3 linked regions of the Homo sapiens genome follow. The protein of the gene in region 3 purifies or fractionates together with the protein of the main gene of each other region. This does not show direct contact. Each region holds a gene or a part of one and is shown on either strand. Other genes may lie near its edges. The genes, in order: LAMA4, CNTN1 and MCAM.

The links.
Region 1: the proteins of MCAM (region 3) and LAMA4 purify together in Homo sapiens (affinity purification with mass spectrometry; 3 studies listed by BioGRID and IntAct, with this or other methods). This does not show direct contact.
Region 2: the proteins of MCAM (region 3) and CNTN1 purify together in Homo sapiens (affinity purification with mass spectrometry; 3 studies listed by BioGRID and IntAct, with this or other methods). This does not show direct contact.

The regions. Positions count from the first base shown.
Region 1 is NC_000006.12:112,107,968-112,111,719, reverse strand, and holds part of LAMA4 (laminin subunit alpha-4 isoform 1 precursor), read left to right. Parts: intron 1-2,137; coding exon 2,138-2,283; 3' UTR 2,284-3,752. UniProt on the Homo sapiens protein: Binding to cells via a high affinity receptor, laminin is thought to mediate the attachment, migration and organization of cells into tissues during embryonic development by interacting with other extracellular matrix components.
Region 2 is NC_000012.12:40,933,423-40,937,174, forward strand, and holds part of CNTN1 (contactin-1 isoform 1 precursor), read left to right. Parts: intron 1-38; coding exon 39-138; intron 139-274; coding exon 275-456; intron 457-3,358; coding exon 3,359-3,483; intron 3,484-3,752. UniProt on the Homo sapiens protein: Contactins mediate cell surface interactions during nervous system development.
Region 3 is NC_000011.10:119,315,251-119,319,002, forward strand, and holds the start of MCAM (cell surface glycoprotein MUC18 precursor), read right to left. Parts: upstream 1,881-3,752; 5' UTR 1,852-1,880; coding exon 1,785-1,851; intron 14-1,784; coding exon 1-13. UniProt on the Homo sapiens protein: Plays a role in cell adhesion, and in cohesion of the endothelial monolayer at intercellular junctions in vascular tissue.

The sequences.
Region 1 (3,752 bases), on a different chromosome or scaffold from region 3:
GAAGGGCGTAACCACCAGCCCACTGCACCACTGCAGCTTTTAAGTCCATCTAAGAATTATGCCAGCAAGCCTAGAATAAAAGCAACTATACTTTAAGATGAAATGTAATTAATTATATCATTTTGAGCTGTTCAAGATTAATTCCACTAAAATCACATCAGAAACCAGGCATTAAGAGGATAGCTAAAGAAATTAGGCTAAATAAAACCCCTAAATGCACTGAATTCTCCAAGAATACCACTCAGAACTCTGGTGACTCATTATTTCTATCCATAAAAAGCTAACGCATAAAATTCCTAGAACTACACACCAAAAAAGTCAACTTTAGTGTGTGATAGTTTTAAAATCAAAATTAAAAATCAAAGAATTTTTTTTCTGCCGGACATGGTGGCTCGCGCCTGTAATCCTAGCACTTTGGGAGGCCAAGGTGGGTGGATCACTTGAGCTCAGGAGGTGGAAACCAGCCTGGCCAACATGGCAAAACCCCATCTCTATTAAAGATACAAAAAATAGCTGAGTGTGGTGGTGAGTGCCTGTAATCCCTCCAGCTACTCAGGAGGCTGAGGCAGCGGAATCGCTTGAACCCAGGAACTGGAGACTATAGTGAGCACAGATCACACCGCTGCACTCTAGCCTGGGCCACAAAGTGAGACTCTGTCTCAAAATAATAATAATAATAAAATAAAAAGGTTTTGTTAATGTAGCCCACCCATGGGTCTAACCATTCATTCCTCTACTGAAAATCCTGCATTATTTGTATATAGTCAAGCATTCAACCTGGGAAACATTCTCTCTAAAAATTATGCATTAATTTCATTAATCAATTACTTAGGATCCTAGGGCACTGTACTGTCACTACCTACAATTAATTGTATGGTGAATTATTCAGACCACTAACTGCTACATGAATTATTACCTCCAGATGATTTCCCTCATAAGCCAAAGGATGGTAAGCTTGGGCAGAATCAAAACCTAAGTTCTAAGTCAGGTCTCCAAAGTAAGCAGAAGTATTAGATGTTTCTACCTCTTATAAGCATTCCTGTTCACTCATTTCTTACCCAAATGATGAAGTACACTGAGCAGGCTTGAAGAATAGTCACACTAATCTAGAGACAATAAAGGGAATTGATCTCTCAGGCCCCTTCCAAATCTAAAACTTTTATGATTATCATTCTAAATATAAAATGCTATTTCCATGATTTATTTTCAGTACACAGCTTCTGCATATTCTTACCCTACATTGCTTAGAAAACTTATTACAGCTGCTTGCTGATGTTTCATTTGCTGTTCTATGTTCTTTCCTGAATTACTGATTTCTAAGTGTTTTCCATCCTTTATCTGCTACTGCTCACATAGCTGTTTGTAAATAATAATAAGCTTTGGCTAAATGGATTTTAATTTTATATTTCTAAGCTCTCTAAATCGCTTTAAATTATATTGCTTCTATCATCCTAACACATTTAATTGTGTCTGTACAATTAATAAGCATAAGGCTTCTTCTAGATTTCTAATTAAGAGGAGAAAGTTCCCTTGGCATACCACAGGGCACTTGTGCCCACACAAAGACTAAGCGAGTTATCATTACCCTATTTATAGTTCTTAAACCCTGAGCTCAGAAAAATTGAATCTTAGTTTATTCGAATTCATTACTTTCTCATTATATTTTATGAACAGGCAAAAATGTAGAGGCTTAAGGGTGAAGGGTAATGAATTAAACAGAAATATTAACCAAGTCCAAAAATAGTGTGGAAGCTAAAATTTCTTTCCTCCTTCTTAGCAAAGTACACATTATAAGTGAGGCCCAGGTGAAATTAACTTTAAAAAACATAGGTAGATCATGAAAATTCACTGCTGAGGCTTTACATGTAAGTGGTAAATTTCAGCCTTGAAAGACAGCTACAATACACAGAAATGTGATCATGGAAAACATGGCAAAACGTTAAAATTACCACATGTCCATAGGACTTCACAAGCAAATAATGTTACTGAGAAATGAGTCAATTATAACTATGTTCTATTTTTGAAATGTAAATCATATTGATGATATGAGCAAATATGTATACTTTTACCAGGAAGTAATATTTGGGCTTGGAATACCTCAATTGCAATCTTTGTTTTTATTTCTTGCTCTTTTCAGAATCTCTACTGACACCACGCTTGGCCCCCAGCAAACCCTTCACAGGCTGCATACGCCACTTTGTGATTGATGGACACCCAGTGAGCTTCAGTAAAGCAGCCCTGGTCAGCGGCGCCGTAAGCATCAACTCCTGTCCAGCAGCCTGACATGACAGAGCACAGCTGCCCAAATACAAAGTTCTTTAGAGCACTGAAAGAAACACAAAGCCAGCCAGGAGGAACAGTAACTCTTCCTTCGGGTGGAAGCTTTCATCGAGTTGAACAGGACTTAAACGAATCATCAGGGACCGGATATTTCTTATTTCTCATTTGGATTCTTAACCTTGAATCCAAAGTGTCTGCAATGGACAACAATTGAAGGAGTGGCAAACTTACTTGTATTGAGAGCACACGCAATTCCTACTGGTGAAATTACTGTTTCTGTTTCTAATAAAATAGAAGGGATTCCAAATAAACACTTGCACACATTTTTGAAGTGCGGCTAGATTCTCAGATTCACCTTTCTTCCAGGGAAGATAACTTTCAATCTATATAAAAATCTCTGTCCTAAAACTACCTTTCTTTATTTTGAAGAGACTTACTAACTTACATATAATCTAAATTAGATGATAGATTTGTTTTTAGCCCTTTTGTTTGGTCTATCAGTATAAGAAGAATATTTTAGGTTTATAGCTGAAGTTATCAAGGTTTAATAAAGTAAATTTCTAACAGAATACTAGAAAAATGCAGTATAATTTAATTTTTTCTAAATAAGAAACACAGGAAATCAACTACTTTTTCCCCTTCCTTATCTCCTTAAAAGAAAAATAAAATTGTACATGAGAGGAGGCTTCTGTAGGTTATTATTACCATTATTGTGTGTTCTATGGGAATCATTGAGGATATCACAGCAAAAACAGTAGGACAAAATCATAAAATTCAATTTAAGAGTACACAAGTCCTTTTATTAAAAGTTTGCTCCTAGCCTGGGCAACATAATGAGATCCCATCTCTGCAAAAAAATTTGTACATGGGCATACACCTGTAGTCCCAGCTACTTGGGAGGCTGAGACGGGAGGATCGCTTAAGCTCAGGAGTTCAAGGCTGCAGTGAGCTATGACTGCTGACTGTACCTGCACTCCAGCCTGGGCAACAGAGTGAGATCCTGTCTCAAAAACAAAGTGTGCTCTCCACATACCTGCAACACAACTAGTCTTATTTCTAAAATGTTATAATCTTTTTTCCAAGTAGCTACATTAATATAGTCTAGAAAAAAATGGACTTGAATAGCTGGTAGAATATTAAAATATAGAAATGAAATAAAAGAATTATATCTAAAAACCTCAACTCAGAAGACAGAAAAAGAGAAAATAGGCCCTGATATCAACAGAATTAACAATACATAAAAGGAGTAACTTTTGAGGGGAGAGGATATAAAATATTTTGAGGAATTACCAAGGGGAATAAAACAATGTTACCTTGAAATGATTATATATATATTACATATTGGTATATATGTCCATACCTACCTATATCCCCTGCTACCCTTCTGTCTGAAATATACAAATAATGATAATGTTGAAGATATCGATAAACATAGCTAATGTCTGTTCATAGAGGACTTACTAAGTGCCAGC
Region 2 (3,752 bases), on a different chromosome or scaffold from region 3:
TAATAATTAGTGGATATTTGTGTTTCTCTTAATATTAGGAACAACAAAACCATATCCTGCTGATATTGTAGTTCAGTTCAAGGATGTATATGCATTGATGGGCCAAAATGTGACCTTAGAATGTTTTGCACTTGGAAAGTAAGTATACTGACACTTTTATTAATATATATAGAAATAGTACCATTTTAGGAAATAAATAATTGTTTAGCTATAAACATAAAGTAATTGTCTTTTAAGTGTGTGAAACTTTAACCCTTGTATCTTCTATTTAAAGTCCTGTTCCGGATATCCGATGGCGGAAGGTTCTAGAACCAATGCCAAGCACTGCTGAGATTAGCACCTCTGGGGCTGTTCTTAAGATCTTCAATATTCAGCTAGAAGATGAAGGCATCTATGAATGTGAGGCTGAGAACATTAGAGGAAAGGATAAACATCAAGCAAGAATTTATGTTCAAGGTAGATACATTATTTTAATTTTGTATAAATTTCATCAGTATCTTATTTAGAGCCATTTCCATACATGAAAAACTACTATATAATGATTAATGGTTTTAAAAACAGTGATGCATGTTACATCATGGAGAAAGATAAAATATTTCTCATATGTCTAATGAAGTCACAACTATGAGTTATAGAAGTTACGAACTTATTACCAGTTGAACCATAGGTAATAGCAATAGATTGATAGAAGTGTTATTGGTAATTTTCAGAATATACACTTAATGTAGTTTGTTTACTCATTTTATCACTGTCTTTTTTCAGTATCTTTTTATTTATAGAAGAAGCTATGTGTTATGACTTAGTTTAAGTCAGTGGTTTGCAAACTTAAGCATGCATCAAAATCACATGGAGGGCTTGTTAAAACAGATTGCTGGGCCAAACTCTCAGAATTTTTCATTCAGAGGTCTGTTAGGGGCTCATGAATTTGTATTTTTAACAAATTCCCAAAGGATGCTGATAATATTGGTCCTGGAGTCACACTTTGAGAACCACTGGTTTAAGAAATCTTTTTTTTTTTTTTTGACAAAATTATCATGGCACAAACCTTTGATTTTCACACATTAAAATAAACTTACATTTGGGAAGACAGATTTTTTTTCAGGCCACACTGGAAACTTTCCAGACTGAAATAATTTCTATAATGTTCCACAACATGAACTTTGCAGGTCACAAGTGAATAAACATCGAGGGCTTCCACAATATTATTCGTTTTTAACTCTGGCTACTGTCCCATTTCACTTTCTCCCGTCTCTCCCAAAAAGGAATAAAAAATTTGACAGATTCACGCATTCTCTCTAAAAGTGTTGTCTCCATCTCCAGTTTTTCTTCTCTCTTAATTGCACTCCAACATGATTTGCATCTCTGCCTCTCCACAGAAACCTTTCTTTTCATGACCACAGACTTCCATATTGCTAAAGCTAATGATCAATTCTCAGTTGTACTTTTTTTTGATCTAACAGCAGTGGTTGCCACAGTTGGTCCCTCCCTTCTTCATGATTCACTTTCTGCACTTCATGTCTGCAACCTACTTTGTTATTAATTTCCTTGTATAATCTTTCATTCTCCATTGCCTTTCAACTCCATACTTTTCTAACATTGGTGTGATCAGGGTTCCATCTGTGAACCCCATCTCCATTTCAGTCACTCCATTTATGATCCCACTCGTGATCATGGCTTTAGACACACTCTGTACCCTGAATGCTCTAACCCAAACATTTACTCTGAACTTCAGACTCGTATGTCCAATGCCACAGTAACATTAATGCAATACATATCAAGTCTGCATGAAATGGCCTCCTAAAAGGAAGAAAATACTAGGTAAGGTCCTTTAAACTTTTGAAATAAATCCACCACTTTCTACTAGGTTTCTAAAGCTTATAGACCTGTTTTTATTCAACATATTAAGAAAACTACACTCCAGGTTCTCAACAGAGTAAAATTTTGAACTGTCTAATATCTAAAGCCTTAGAAGAACCAAGGTGACAGAGCACATATTTACAGAAGGTAATTTAAGAGAAATATTATTTATTCTTTACTAATGCAGCATACTAAGTATTATCTTTAGGTCTGATCACATCACTAGAAGGTTACATAATTAAGCCATATATAGACTGTGTCAAGCCAATTCAATTATTCATTACATGATGTAATAGAAAATGTCTGTGTTGTCTTTGTGAGGCCAAGACAGGAAGGGTGCTGATATTCCTGTATTATGTATTGCTAAGATTGTATACAAAATAAAACCTTTCTCCCTTACAATGAACATATCCACCAATAGTTTAAAAAATATCTCCCTATGTTACAAATATAATGATGAGTGAAAACATGTACTAAATAAGATTATATATGCTTTAAGATATATAGGTGTACATATGTCTACATGTATAATGTATACATTATAATGTATAATGTTGATGGTATTTGGTGAGATAAAAATGTTTTCTAGTTTTTAAATTTCTAGTATTTTATTACTTGTTAAATGTTTTTTATAAGATGCATATATTGCTTTTGCCATAAAATTAACACAAGTTCCCAGTTTCAAAGAAAATTAAATATTATTCTCCACTCAGGATTCTTTCTTCCTACTTCCTTTTTGTATTAATTTATTTATCTGCATTTATTTGGACTAGATAACTGAAATAATCAAAAAGACTGTCAAATTGTTTATTTGCTTGTTCTCTAAAAATATTTTTTCTTTGGAAAATTTTTAGCATTTTCTCATTTTTATGGATGTCTCTTTAGCTATCAAGTAGATCAGACTAAAGAATGAGACTGAGATCAATTTTACCAATGCATGGATTTCACCAATCATGGCTACTGTATATAGTTTCTAATATGGAAAGAGTATATTTAGGTGTCCAAGTCATTTTTCTAGCGCCAAAGTGAGATGTTACCGTGGCCACTAGCTGAAAGTTCCATCAAAATGAAGATAATGTATACCTGAGGGAGTGGGAAAAATATCTGAGTCTTTATCCAAAATGTTAAGAGATGGTATCATATTGAATTGAGATGTAATTCTTTAAAACCTCAATTATCATTTTGACAGACTTGAAAGGTTTATGTTATGAGCAGAAAAAAATCAGTTATTTTAGTAATAATTATAACTCAGCTTTTCAACAAAACATGATTTACAAATGGAAAAATAATGGCTGAGTTATAGTTACCTCCTGCTGTAATAATACAGGATTTGCGTAGGTTAAGCCTATGCAAAGACAAGGCCTATTACTGAGTTCAGGATGCATACACTATCTGATGTATTCTGCAGAATTAGGTTAACTAAATGTAATATTTATACTCTGGAGATTATGATGGATCTTGAGCCCTTCATTTAACATTTACAATGTTCCTTACTTTTTAGCATTCCCTGAGTGGGTAGAACACATCAATGACACAGAGGTGGACATAGGCAGTGATCTCTACTGGCCTTGTGTGGCCACAGGAAAGCCCATCCCTACAATCCGATGGTTGAAAAATGGATATGCGGTATGTATGTTCAAGTGCTTTGCTGTTCCTGAGTCCCTGTTCAAGCAGTGTTTCAGGGTAGTCCTGGGATAAATTTAGCAGGAGAGACAATACAGAAAGGGCACTTGGGCCCTGAAATATAAAAGCTTCCTAAAAAAGACAAAAACTGAACATAAAGTATCTTCTTTCAGTTTAAACAACTTTCTGTAATCTTACTCTACCTTCTCTCTCTCTCTCTCCTTATTTTTTTCCTTTGTTCCACTTTTCCACCCTCTTCCTACTCATCCATC
Region 3 (3,752 bases):
TCTCCGGGCACACCTGGGGGAGGGAGGCGGGGCCCCCGCAGCTGTGTCAGCTCCGGCTGCTGTCCGCCCCTCCCCTCGCAGCGCTGCTGCAGCTGTTTTTCCTGCCACTCAGAGGGTCTGCAGAGGGCCCTGTCCTCTGAACGCTCTACCCCCACCCCGACCCGCGCCCCACCTGGGCCAGCCCTCTCCCCGTCCAGGAGATCCCAGGTCCTTGGAGCCAAGCAGAGATTGAGCAGAGACTGAGCACCGAACAGCTCCAGCTGAGGCTGGTAGAGGGGCAGAAAGGGGCAACCTAGGCTCGGGGCCAAGAGGAAGGCCCCTTTCCTTCCAGGCCCCCTCCTCTCCGGGTGAGCTCAGAGTGTGGGAATGCAAAGCATGTGCCAGGCTGGGGCACACAGGCCCTTTTGTGTCACCACCGCCAGGGGAAGACACCACTGCTCTATCCTCTGCCCTCCAAAATCCCTGCCCTCACTCCCCAGCGGGCTAACTCTGGCGGAAGTTCCGGTCTCATGCTCCCTCAGCAGCACCTCCATGAACACTCCGCACACACCCGCGGACCCCACCCTAGGTAGCTGGTAAGGATGGAGAGGTCAGAGTCTCCCCCAGGGGTCAGGGCAAGGGCCAGGCAGTGGGCAGGAGTGACGTCAGTGGTGCCAGCGTGCTGCCAGCCCTGTGAGGAGGTGATGTCACTCGACACCATCTGCCTGGGCTCTGGGATGCCTGGGTTGTTACCTTGGCTCTCGGACAAGGAGGGCAGGTGGAAGGTGGGGTCTCCAACCCAGAGCCTCAGACCCCTGACTCCTCCCAGAGCTAGAAGAGCAGGGCAGGGTGGAGCTGGACCGGCTGCAACTGTGGAGCCCGATTTAGCCCTTTCCCCAGAAATAAAGTCAGCCTGGGAGGCAGTAGCCTGGAATACCCCAGGGACATGGTTGGCACTGGGCATGAGGCCAGCGAGCTGGGTATTGCCTAGCCCTCCCCTTCCCCAGCCGGACAGCGGCTGGGACGGCGGAATGGGAGCCAAGAGAAACACGCGACACCGCTGCGGGCCATACAAGGGCAGCGTGGACCCGAGAGCGCCCTGCTACCAGGCGGATCCGGAGAAACGCTCCGAGGTGCCCGGGCGCACTTCCCACCTGAATGTGGTCCCCAAAATAAGCCAGCGGGCGCTTCCAGTATGGGAATCCTCCATCCCTCATCTCTGTCCCCTATGATCCCATCACTCGGGGAGGCGCGAGGCGACCCACACCGCCCCGCAACCCCTGCCAACGCCCAGCTCGGGCGGGAGCCGCCGAACCTCCCGCTCTCGCTCACCTCCAGCCTGGCGTGATGCCCAGGCAGAAGGGGGAAGGGGTGGGTCGGCGCACCCCCTCCAGCGAAGGAAGCTGCCTTTTCCAGCAACAGGCGGGCGCGGAATTCAGGCTTTGAGGATGCGCCCCAGCTGCGCCTCCTGCCCGGCTTCAATTGCGGGCCCCCAGAGTGAGCACCTCAGGGACCACCCACCCCCCAGCACCCCGAAAGGCTGAGCTCCACCCCTTCTCGTTCCCAGAAGCAGCCTCCTCCCCGCCTTCCGAGTGCTGCTCCCGGGATACTCTAGAATCCCGGCTGCAAACTGGCTGCAAAGAAGAGTTGCTCGCGCGCAAGGCGCCCGGGGATCGGGGACCCAGGGAGGAGGCTCGTCCTCCCAGACGCAACGCCCCGACCCCGCCGCGCCGCTGGCTCTGCTCCCTGGCACGCTCCACCGCAGACCCCTAGCCGGGGCGCGGCCCCCCTGCGAGCGAACTCACCCGCGACGCGAGGACAGCAGCAGCAGGCGGCGAGCAAGAAGGCGCAGACCAGCCTGGGAAGCCCCATGCTTCCCGGCCGGAGGGCGAGAGCCAAGTGAGCAGCTCGAGGCTGCCGGGGGCTGACGTCAGGGGGGCGGGGGAGGGGGCCCGGAGCGCCCGGGCCCGCCCCGCCCCGCGCAGCCCCCAGCCCCCGCCCCGCGCGCCGCAGCCCTAGGGGGCGGGCCCCGGCGCCGCCAGCCCGGGAGCTGCGCCTAGGAGCGCTGCCGGAGGTAGGCCAGAGCCGGACTCCCAGGCTCCTGGCTTGGGAAGGCTGAGGGGGTAGTGACAGGTGTCTCGGGGTCTGACTGGCCGAGGTGGCAGCGAGGAGAAGCTGTCCCGGATGCCCGGAGTCGCCCCGGGTCGAAGCCAGCCAGGCTCACCGCTGCTCAGCCCCTGCCAGCCAATGTAGCCCCTAGGGGACCTCCTGGGGGAGGAGCAGTAGCGGACCTGGTCCTCGGTGTCCCCAAGGGGCCTCCCACTTGGGCTCCCCTCCCTTGCCACAGAGAATTCAGGCCGGCCTCTATCGCTTCCCAGAACGATTGCACCACTGCCGCTGCCGCCGGCCTGACACTGCCTCAGCCTCAGTGCTGGCAGCTTTGGGAGAAGAACCCTGCGCCAGTCCCACAGACCCAGAAGTACCTGTATGGGGAGTGCAGACGATGCCTTCTGGGCTGTCCCTTCAAACGCAAGCTCCTGCAAGTCTAGCCTTTGACCAGAGAAAGGAAGGAGGGGGCTGAATTCGCAGGCCCAAGGTGTTCACACTTGTCCAGACCTGGGCCTTGAGAATCATGTTTCTTCCCTCTTCACTCTGGAGCCTACCCTGGAACTCAGTTTCCCCTCACCTAAGAGAAAGAAACAGGGAGAAGAAAGAGTTAATGGGCGAGGGTCCCCAGCCTGACCCTGCAAACCTGTTGCTGTTCCTGATGATTGAAAGGATCCCGGCAGCGCTGATCTTCCCCCACCCCATGTCTTCCCCAGCCCTATTGATTGTGGGTCCATAGCTGAGGGAAGAATCAAATCAGACCTGCTTGGGTGGGGAGCTCTGCAGCTCCCCTTCTCCCAAAACGCCGGCTTCTCCCTGGGTCTTCTGGCCTCTTGAACTAAGGCTCTAGGGAGGGGGAGGTGCTCTTGCCTCACTCTGACCCCAGCAGCCTGGCCTCAGAAAAGGGGTCCACATCTGCTGGCGCGCCTCCACCAGGGAGTGCCAAATAGGGGCCTGGATTTGGGTAGAGGTCTGTTGCCCAGCGGGGCCACCCCTTTGCTCGCTGGGGGAGGTGGAGGGTGAGCCAGCAAACCCTGGAGATGGCCAGGTGACTTGAGAGCATGCTCCGGGGTGGCGTTTTGATGACGCAGAGATGACTGGAAAACCACACCAGGCTTGTCTTTCAGAGCCTTCTCGACCCCTCCTCCAATGCCATTAGTCTCCAGCCAGAGGCTGTGCAGAGCCCAGGCCCACCGGGCCAGGGGCCTGGAGCCTGGAGCCTGCAGGGAGAACAAGAGGAGGACGCTGGCTCGCCCTCCAGAGTGAATGTATGGACTGGCCCCAGGCCCAGAGCTGACTAGATGAGAATGTTTTGTCTGCTGGGCTGGAGTGGGAATGGCTGAAGGATGCCGTTTGCCCTGGCAGGCCCGGCTGGGCATGGAGCTGGCTTCCCTGCCCAACCCCCTTCCTTCACTTAACACCATTAACTAATCATTCGCCTCTCTGGCCTGAAAACAAAGCCAGCTAACCACCAAGGACAGTCAGTTCTGAATTCTTCTTCCGCTGGAGGAGAGTGAAGCCAGGTGGGGGTGGAGGATTTGTCTCTGCGGTGAAAGGGAAATGAGGTCAGAGCCTAGAGCCCAGGGTGACGTCCCTTCGCATTGCCCCACCAAACAAGCACAGAAGACTGTCCTTTAAGGAAGCCAGTAGCCTGGGGCTGTCTAGGC